2 separate regions of the Homo sapiens genome follow, and region 2 is linked to region 1. The links come from fine-mapping of genetic effects on gene expression. A gene starts in region 1. The other region holds a variant in brackets. All regions are shown on one strand. Distances are between the middles of the regions.

Region 1 (5,392 bases):
TCCTCTACATTAAACCAAAGGAGATCAGGCATTTCTAGCTCACTCGTAGTAGGCCATCTTTTAATCTATATTTTAGCTAAACAAGCAAATAAACTATTAGAACCTTTTTTAACTCCCCCAGCTGAAACATTAAATGAACAATCCCTACTTAGTGGGCCCAAATCAATAAATTCAGCCTGATCCAACTCTATGTTCCTTCAACCATTATCCCACACCCTTAATATCCATTCCCATGCCTGTTCTCCAGATTTCTGTTTAAACTCAAGCAATTCTTTTTGGGTGTAGAACATCTCATGGGTCACACTCTCAACCTCACCTCTAGAGGCTCGCCTGGACTTTAGTCTAGTTATAGGTCTAGAAGGAAACAGGGGTGTTGGAGGTGGCTCCTGAAGATAATCAACTTTACCTTGCCTGGAAACTGCCTCAAGGGAGGCCATCACTGTTGCCTCAGGCAGCACAGGGTTTATCTCCTCAGACAAAGGTGGAAAGGCTGATGGCAGTGTGGGTCAGGGAGGGGATATTGTCTCTACTGGGGATGGGGAAGCTGTTTCCTCTGGCCGAAAAGTTTCATCAGAGTTTACAAACTCAGTGTCCCCAGCTTCATTAGGGTCCTCCCACACGTCCCCATTCCAAGTTGCAGGGCCCCATTCTTTTCTAATCAAAGCGCTCACTTTAACAGTGGACACCTGGTGAGGCTGTGCATGCATCTTTCATTACAGGTCAGCCTACATGATAAGGGTTTGTGTCTGTTTTTCCACAATTTCAGCTCTTTCTCTACAGGAAGATAAGACTCTCACTCAGGGCAGTCTTAGCAGATTTGAGGCTCAGTATCTGCTTCTGAGGCCGGGAGATAGAATCCCTGAGTTCATTATTTTCTTTCATCACTTTTTCCACTGAACTTAGGAGCAACCAACCAGCTTCATTATGTTCCTTGGTTCTCCACATATGGTCAAAGGTATTACATGTAGAGTCACTAAAATCCTTGCCTCTCAGGAGCGATGAATCAGGAGTGTCAAATGCATTTATTTTGCATATTTCTCGAACAGTTCATGCCAAGGATTATCAGTGTTCTCCATGCTATTAGAAGTAGAGTTCTTAGCATTTTTGGCGTCTAATATTAAGCAGCCAACACCAGAAATTCCAAAACCAATGAAAGAACTACATCCTTAATATTCTGTTCCTCTAGAAGACCACTTCTGGTACCAACATCTGTATCAGGGTTCTCTAGAGGGAAAGAACTAATGGAACACACATATATACATAAAGGGGAGTTTATTAAGTATTAACTCACACAATCACAAGGTTCCACAATAGGCTGTCTGCAGGCTGAAGAGTAAGAAGAGCCAGTCTGAGTTCCAAAACTGAAGAACTTGGAGTCGGATGTTCCAGGGCAGGAAGCATCCAGCACAAGAGAAAGATGTAGGCTGGGAGACTAGGCCAGTCTCTCTTTTCCATTTTTCTGCCTGCTTATATTCTAGCCACCTGGCAGCTGATTAGATTGTGCCACCCAGATTAAGGGTGGGTCTGCCTTTCCCAGCCCACTAACTCAAATGTTAATCTCCTTTGGGAACACCCTCACAGACACACCCAGGATCAATACTTTGTATCCTTCAATCCAGTCAAATTGACACTCAGTATTAACCATCACATATGTCTTTGCTATTGTGAGTAGTGTGGCAATGTACATACAATAGCATGTGTTTTTTCCAGTATGATGACCTAAATTCCTTTCGTTATATACCCAGTAATGGTGAGGGACTAAGTGGCTAAGTTGGCTGGACTTCCTGGGTCAATAGGGACTTCCCTAAGGGGACTATCCCCTAAACCCAAATAAGTCACAGCTGCAAGCTAAGGGATTTAAACTTCAACCAATCAAAGGGGACTTTCCCCTAAGCCAAAATGAGTCACAGCTGCAAGCTAAGGGATTGAAACTTCAACCAATCATATAGGGAGTTTAAGGTCTAGCTACAGCCTGATGTTTTTAACCAATCAGGCCCATCAACCCACAAGTGGGTTGAAAATAAGCTAATTGTATAGGACAGAAAAAGGAAAAGGGGAGGGGTCATAAGGCGATATAAGCATAAGACACCCAAGCCAGAAACAGCAACCCTTCTGGGTCCCCTTCCACCACGCAGAAGCTTTACTTTCGCTTTCACTTTACTTTTGCTTTCACTTTAACAAATCTTGCAGCCGCACACTCTTTGGGTCCGCCCGTTTCTCTAATCAAGTTGTAACACTCGCTGCTGTGGTCCACAGCTTCATTCCTTGAAGCCCGTGAGACACGAACGCTTCCATTGAGAAAAACCTTCCATCAGAAGAAGACTTCTCGTCTCAGTGGGACTGCTGAGTTGAATGGTACCTCTGTTTTAAGTTCTCTGAAAAGTCTCCAAACTGCTTTTTATAGTGGCTGAACTAATTTTCATTCTCACCAACAGTGTATAAATGTTCCTTTTTCTCTAGACTCGCCAGCATATGTTGTTTTTTGACTGTAGAGTAATAGCCATTGTAACTGGTTTAAGATGATATAGCATTGTGGTTTTGATTTGCATTTCCCTGATGATTAGTGATGACAAGCATTCTTTCATGTTCGTTGGCCGCTTGTATGTCTTCTTTTAAGAAGTGTCTGTACATGTCCTTTGCCCATTTTTTAATGTATTCTGTTTTTTGCTTGTTGTAAGTTCCTTACAGATTCTGGATATTAGGCATTTGTTGGATGCATAGTTTGCAAATATTTTCTCACATTCTGTAGGTTTTCTGTTTACTCTATTGGTAGTTTCTTTTGCTGTGCAGCAGCTCTTTAATTAGGTCCCACTTGTCAATTTTTGTTTTTGCTGCAATTGTTTTTGGGGACTTAGCCAAATTTTCTTTGCCAAGGCCAGTGTTGAGAAGGATATTTCCTAGGATTTTTATAGTTTGAGAGCGTACATTTGAGTCTTTAATTCATCCTCAGTTAATTTTTGTATCTGGTGAAAGGTAGGGATCCAGTTTCAATCTTCTGCATACTAACCAGTTATCCCAGCACCATTTATTGAATAGAGTGTCCTTTCCTTGTTGCTTGTTTTTGTTGGCCTTGTTGAAGATTGGATGGTTGTATAGTCACAGTTTACCTTGTATCTGGGATCTCCTAACCTCCTAAATAATTTTTTAAAAATTTTCATACATTACGGTTAAGTTTTTGTGCTCTAGACTTTTATGGGTTTTGATAAATGCATAATATCATCTATCCACCATTGCAGTATCATACAGAATAGTTTCACCACTCTAGGCAATCTCTTGTGCTTCACCTACTCAAATCTGTGTCTGTGAACCTCTAGAAACCACTGATATCTTTATTTTCTTTATTTTTTCATTTTTAGAGACAGGGTCTTGCTTCGTTTCCCAGTCTGGAGTGCAGTGGCACCATATATATGGCTCACTGCCACCTTTACTTCCTGGGCTCAAAGGATCCTCCTGCCTCAGCCTCCCAAGTAGCTGGGACTACAGGTGTGCACCACCATGCCCAGCTAATTTTTAATTTTTTTTGTAGAGCCAGGGTCTTGCCATCTTGCCCAGGCTGCTTTCAAATGATATCTTTACCCTCTCTATAAGTTTGCTTTTTCCAGAATGTAATATAATCATGCAGTATGCAGCAGTCCTTTCATGCTGGCTTCTTTCATTTAGCAATACACATTTAAGAATCATCTATGTCCTTGTACAGCTTGATAGCTCATTCTTTCCTATCTCTGAATAGTATTTCATTGTATGGATATACCAGAGTTTATTCATTTCTGTGTTGAAGAACATCTTGATAGCTTTCAGTTTTTGGTGATAATTTTATAAAATTCTATAAACATTCATGTGAAAGTTTTCTGTAGTTAAAATTTCTCAAATCATCTAGGTAAATATCTAAGAACCCAGCTGCTGGATTACAAGGTAAAAATATGTTTAGCTTTGTTAGAAACTGCTAAGTTATCCATCAGAGTGGTTGTACCATTCTGCATTTTCTCCGGTGATGAATGAGAGTTCTTGTTGCTCCTCATCCTAACCAGTATTTAGTATTAGCATATTTTGGTTTTTAGCCCTCTTAATACATGTACAATGTTATCTCATTATTATTTTAATTTTTATATACCTAATGACAACCAATGTTGAGCATCTTTACATGTACTTATTTGCCATATATATGGTGGTATCTGTTTAGAACTTTTGCTTACTTTTTAATTGAGTTGTATTTTATTCTTGAGTTTTAAGCATCACTCTGTATATTTTGGATGTATTATTTTTATTTTTTCTATCTTTTTTTTTTTTTTACCAGATATGTGTTTCACAAATATTTTTTTCTCATTCTATGGCTTGTCCTTTAACTCTCTTAATATTTCTCAAAGAGCAGATGTTTATAATTCTAATAAAGTCTTACTTTTTTTTCATGTATTGTGCTTTTGGTGCTGTATTTAAAAACTCATCGACAAATCTAAGATTCCATAGATTTTCTCTTTTCTTTTTCTTTTAGATGTTTTATAGTTTTTCATTTTAAAGTTAGGTACTTGATCAATTTCAACTTAATTTTTGTGAAAGCTGTAGAATATGTGCTAGGTTCTTTTTGTTTTAATTTGAGTATCCAATTGTTTCAGCACTATTTGTTTAAAATGTCAACATTTGCTTCATCGACTTGACTTTGAATCTTTGGGAAAAATGGAAACTACCATTGCAAAATTATAACTGAGACAGTGAAAGATATTTGACCTAACCAACTCCATTTTCTTCTAACCTCCAAGCTGTCCTTGTTCATTCCTCGGTGTAGGCTGAACTAACTTTGGGAGGAACTTAGTTTATAGTTTAAAACAAAAACAATAACAGCCCTTTCCCCAGACAAACCTCCTTCTTGCCTGGGGACTAGACTGCCTTTGTAGGACTAACAAATTAGCCACAAGATTAGAAATTATGGGCTGGGTGCGGTGGCTCATGCCTGTAATCCCAGCACTTTGGGAGGCCAGGCGGGTGGATCATGAGGTCAGGAGATCGAGACCACCCTGGCTAACATGGTGAAACCCCATCTCTACTAAAAATACAAAAAAAAAAAAAAATTAGCCGGGTGTGGCGGCAGGCACCTGTAGTCCCAGCTACTCGGGAGGCTGAGACAGGAGAATGGTGTGAACCCAGGAGGTGGAGCTTGTGGTGAGCCAAGATCGTGCCACTGCACTCCAGCCTGGGCGACAGAGTGAGACTTGGTCTCAGAAAAAAAAAAAAAAAAAAAAACAAAAAAACCCTAATCTGCTCTTAAGATCAGTGATTGAGATAAATTTGCAGACCCTCCCCTTGATGGATCAGCTGGCACCACCCAGATCAATTAACTGGCTCATCTGATCTTGTGGCTCCAGCCAGGAACTGACTTGGCCCAAGAGGACAGCTTCAA
Region 2 (5,392 bases), 44 kb after region 1:
ACTCTAGGAAATCTAGAATACTTTTATGTCTCTGGTGGCATTTAAAACAGAATCAGTCTCCTTGGAGATCAATCCTCAAACTTTTAATGGCGTGTGTAAAACTAGAAGGTCAATTCTATGAACATATTTCAATCTTTCAAAATTGTATACGATCATTTAATGAACAATTAGAAGCAACCAGGTATCTAATAGCAAGTGCATGGCTTATTCAACCATACTTTTCAATGCATTAAAATTCAAAAAGGGCATTAAAAGGTATGGTTTTGGACTATAAGCTTATATAGAAATTTGTAGGTGAAATAACAACATGAAAAGAAGATAAAAACAATATATTGAAACTGACTACAATCTTACTGATCACAGGTCTGAGTACAAGTTTTTACTACTTACATCATAACTCCTCTTATGGACCATCATCAATACCTAATCTGGAAAATTTCCCCTGCTCCTTGTCATATATTCAAAATTAATAGATATTTTTTCTCTTAACACTAATAAGTTTTTAATTACTTCCTATCTTATCTGTTATCACAATGAATCAAATTAGTTAGGTATGCTTATGTATCTGGTTTTTCAACACCTATTTAAGGGAAGAAACAATAGGCCATTCATCTTTATATTTCTGGGACCAGAGACATAGCACTTTTGTGTCCTCAATATCCCCAAATATGACTATCACAGGGAAGGTGCCCACAAAATGTTTGCTGAATGAATCTAGTTAAGTCCTCAATAAATACCAGCTGAGTGAATGAATGGAACTTCATAGAACTATAATCATATTGATGATCTGCATTACATTTCAAATTGTTTAATACAATTTAACATTCATGATATGCACTTTTTCAGGTAAAATGTAACACCTTGACTATTGTACATTAGGATGTTCTTGAAATGTGAAATCTAAATAAATATGTATACAAATTTGGTATCTCTTTTCGTGGCAGCTCTCCTTGGCTGAGATTTCTGGATCCCCTGTGGGATCTACTGAACTCAGTATCACACGTAACTTAGCTTTGTTTGATTCAACCTGCCACACAGTTCACCAGCCTGGATCTTGTTGATGTAGCTCATTATCCATAAATCACTACCTGCATTGTCTAATTTAAGATCCAGGGTAACTGCATACTTGTGTTTTGTTGTTGTTTCTTTTTTTGGGGGGAGAGGAATTTACATGAAAGCAGAACAGAGAGTACCATGATTATACACTAAATAGAATAAGAGAACAGAGTATCATTACTTTTTATTCTCTCATTCTTTTCCTCTCAACAGATTACCCACAAAGTACTGTTCACTGATTTTGTCTCCTTACCAACATTACAAAATTATGTGTTTTATTTAAATATGCCACCAGCAAATCATCTGAGCATTCCGCTTGAATTAACACCAGGTTTATACACACAAAAAGAATAATGAATGGATGGTTCAAATAAAGAAGGTGTGCATACGTGTTTTGCTAGGGTCTCTGAAATTAACCTGAAGTAGCCTGGATCTCTGTTTCAAAGTGTTAATTACAGTGCCAGGGCATTTCTATTTTTTTTCTTCTTTTTGTGGAGGTTTTGATGTTTTCTCCAATAAGGACAACTATCTAGATTGCTTTAAGTGAATGTTCTTAAAAGCTGCTGGCAAAGATAGACAAATCTAGAAAGCCTTGATGTTGCATAAACAATATTATTTTCATTACATGTATTTCTACACATTCCCATGAAAAATTAAATTTTGGCTCCTTCTGAGAGCCAAAGGTGAGTGTGTGTGAAGTGAGGGAGATTTATATGAAAGGACACAATGCAAAAGATGAAAATAATTCTATCCTCTTTCCCTTAGACAAATGGTTTGGGTTTAACTGCCCTTGTTTTTGTTGGATGTGAATATGTTAATCTTCTTTTTCAAAACATACAGACTTACGGAAATGGAAGTGAACATCTGTTCAACTGTCAAGTCACCAGCTAAATTCAAGTCTGAGAAAAGAAGACAATCTGTTTAAATGAAACTTTGTGTGAATGAAGGCCAGAGTTTTTGGCACTTGTGTTTGCAAAAAAAAAAAAAAAGAAAAAAATTTTAAACAATTGTTACTAAAAAAAAAAATCTTTTTCTAGGATGACCTTTGTTTGTTTAAACTGTTGGAAAATCAATATTTAAAATGAAATCTAGAAACTGAAGTGTGCCCTCTGCAGGATCACCAGAATGATGGGAAAACTGAACACAATCAACTCATGAACTCCCCAAGGTCAGAGGTTTGGTCTAATTCAATAACTAATATCTAGAAGGTATTCTAGAAAAATGCATGTTAACAGAGTGAGCAAAAGTAACAGTCAAAGAAACCCAGGAATCACATTTCATGCCTATATTAGTCTGTTCTCACACTGCTAGTAAAGACATAACTGAGACTGGGTAATTTATAAAGGAAAGATGTGTAATTAATTCATAGTTCCACATGGCTGGGGAGGCCTCATCATCATGGCAGAAGGCAAAAA[T/A]GAAGCAAGACACGTCTTACATGGCAGCAGGCAAGACAGCGTGTGCAGGGGAACTGCCCTTTATAAAACCATCACATCTCATGAGACTTACTATCACAAAAACAGCATGGAAAAACTCCCTCCCATGAGTCAGTTACCTCCCACCAGATCCCGCCCATGACACATGAGGATTATGGGGGCTACAATTCAAGATGAGATTTGGGTGCAGACACAGCCAAATCATATCATATCCTCTGTTTTCCAAAGATCTTATATAATTTAGTTCTACTTTAGAAAAATTAATCCAATGATAGTTGGCAGTATATACAGTTGTGTAAAAGATGGGTAATTTTTTGCATACTCGTAAGAGTTCAGAAAATTAAGATATAAGCTATTGGTTAAGAGAGGGAATAGCCTCTCTCATTATGACAAAAATTAATAGTTGATTATTTTTTTCATATATGATAAAAATCTTAGTCCATATGTGTTTCAATTTAAAAGACATGAGAAGATAATATGATTTTTCCTCCAAAGTTGACTGGTTGGCTATTAGACTGCAAATCTCATAATATAATTACCTTGGTGGAAACATAGTAATTTAAATATTGGACATTAGATTTGCAGGTGCAGGAAATCAATTGTGTCAATATACAAAAATTTTATTATACTATTACAATGATTCACACTAAAAATATTTGGCGGGGATTGATATATAAATATACATGGCAATGTATTAATTTATAATGGTGGTGATTTCTCTAACTACCTTCACCCCAGCTATATATCATATAGTCATAGTTGGAAACCACCGAGGAGGGTCACTCCAGCTGAGAGAGTCAAACTGTCAAGTCCCTACACTCTGACATCACCCTGCTCAAAAGGGTTCTCCATCTGCCGTTGCTCTCTTTTCTATCGGTCAATGCCTCATGTATAAGGAAACATGATCTTCTATCATTTACTGTACTGTTCTTCTCAATGTTCTGCACTTGCTTTTTTTGGACTCAGCTGTCTACCATATCCTCATCTTCAAAACTTTCCCACAGTATTTTCTAGAACTATCCATCTAGAATAATAATAATAATAATAAAACCTATCTTCAACTTCTACATTGCCTGCCATAAGTGAAACTTGACTCATCTGAAGATATCACCTGTACTGTTTCCCTCTTAATGCTGGTTGCTTATTTTCGGACACACACACACACCCCTGGATGGTGAGGTGGTATTTCTGAACTCCCTAAACTGCAGTGGCACTTCTAGCAATGAGACACCATTCTCTTGTAAAACTAACAAAAAACACATGCACATACTGTATTGGTTTGTTTTCAAATTGCTATAAAGAAATACCTGAGACTGGGTAATTTATTAAAAAAAAAAAAAGAGGTTTCATTGGCTCACGGTTCTGTAGCCTGTATAGGAAGCACAGCAGCTTTTGCTTCTAGGGAGGCCTCAGGAAACTTACAATCATGGTGGAAAGCAAAGCGGAAGCAGGCACATCTTATATGGCTGGAGTAGGAGCAAGGTGGTACAGATGGAGCCACATACATGTAAACAGCCAGATCTCTTGAGAACTCATTCACCATACAGTACCAAGAAGGGATGGTGCTAAACCATTCATGAGAACTCTGCCTCCATGATCCAGTCCCCACGTCCAAAAATTTGACTTAAGATTTGGTGGGACACTAATCCAACTCACCTACACACACACACACACACTCTCACACTAAACACATTTGAGATTCATTTGAGATTCATGAAATTTCACTATACAATTCCAACTGCTTTCTTACTGCTATCATCTAACTTCTGGTAATTGGTTCACTAACATATCTTCATCCAAATTCTGTCACTGCCATCCTTCATGACGTATGAACCCTCTATGCTTAACATACTTGTCTCCGAAGAATCTGTCCTCTGCCCTGTCGTACATCCGTATCTCTCACACTATGAATTTTGTTATAAATGCAGATTATCTCTACTACAGAATTGCTAATTCAGTTATTACACTCTCTGAGTACAACTTGCTTTCCTAGCTATGGTCATTTCTGTACTTCAGTGAGAGTCCCAGTTCATGGCATTTCCAAATTCGTAGAGTTCTTTAGGCGTCTCATTTTTGTTATCAACATTACTTTCTAATCATAAATCTTGTTCAGAATTTCTTGTTAACAACTTCTTTTCATCATTATATCAAAAGTGTCAATTCTTCTCCGCGTATTTTCAAACTTGAACTCAGCCTCCCAGTTCCCAGCCAAAGAACAATCTTATCTCTTCACATAGAAAATATGATATCACCCTCAATTTCTGCTTCCACCTATACAAACCTATCTACACTTACCTCTATTTTGTCCTGCTTCCTTCTGCTTAAGCATAGGTACTTGGGGACTGTTTCCTCTCACATTCAAAGAAATCTTTTCTTATGTGAGTTCTCCATTATCTCCTATCTATTCGTCAACATTCTCACATTAAGATCCTAATTGTTCCAAGGAAAATGTTTCTGCTTTTTTAGCTTTATGGATTTTCTACGTTGATTCATTTTCATGTAAATAGAAAGTGTGGGCTAAACTTTTATCTACCTTATTGAATATTAAGTAAACTAAAATGCTTAAAAAGCGATTTTTCATACCGAAGAACTAAACTTTTCTCTGTACTTGGACACTTTGATAAATCATAATTGGTAGTTTACAGATGGGAAGCTTACTTGCAAATGTTCTAAAGATGAATGCTTCCTTTTGTATGACATTTTGATATAAATTAAGATCCATGTGTTTCATATATTGCTGAAAAAAAAATAGTGTTAAAACAATACTTCCTCTGCTGAATATATGTGAAACTATATCTTTGATTAGTGATTCTGTCTCCTCTTCCACAGCAAAAAATAACCCTCAAATTTCTGTAATTCTTTCCTGCTTCCTTTGCTTCTGCTATGAATGTTTTCTTATGACA

Which allele goes with the higher level. Alleles are on the strand shown, and positions count from the first base shown. SD is a standard deviation of normalised expression in the study named.
For the expression in cerebral cortex of the gene that starts at base 2,172 in region 1, allele T in region 2 goes with a higher level than allele A (small effect, 0.32 SD a copy in GTEx).

The links. PIP is the estimated chance that this variant, and not a neighbour inherited with it, causes the effect. A credible set is the group of variants that fine-mapping cannot tell apart.
Region 2: its variant is the best candidate, but not a certain one, in a credible set for the expression of LINC02328 in cerebral cortex (GTEx, PIP 0.63).

What each region holds. Positions count from the first base shown.
Region 1 is chr14:85,932,507-85,937,898 of GRCh38, forward strand. LINC02328 (long intergenic non-protein coding RNA 2328) reads left to right here and starts at 2,172. Exons shown (of 4, transcript NR_110155.1): 1 at 2,172-2,355. RefSeq lists enhancers at 1,657-1,706, 2,077-2,286.
Region 2 is chr14:85,976,877-85,982,268 of GRCh38, forward strand. All of the region lies in intron 1 of LINC02328 (long intergenic non-protein coding RNA 2328), which reads left to right. Among named protein-coding and RNA genes, the nearest start is that of LINC02328, 45 kb to the left of the region's middle. The variant T/A (reference allele first, on the strand shown) is at 2,472.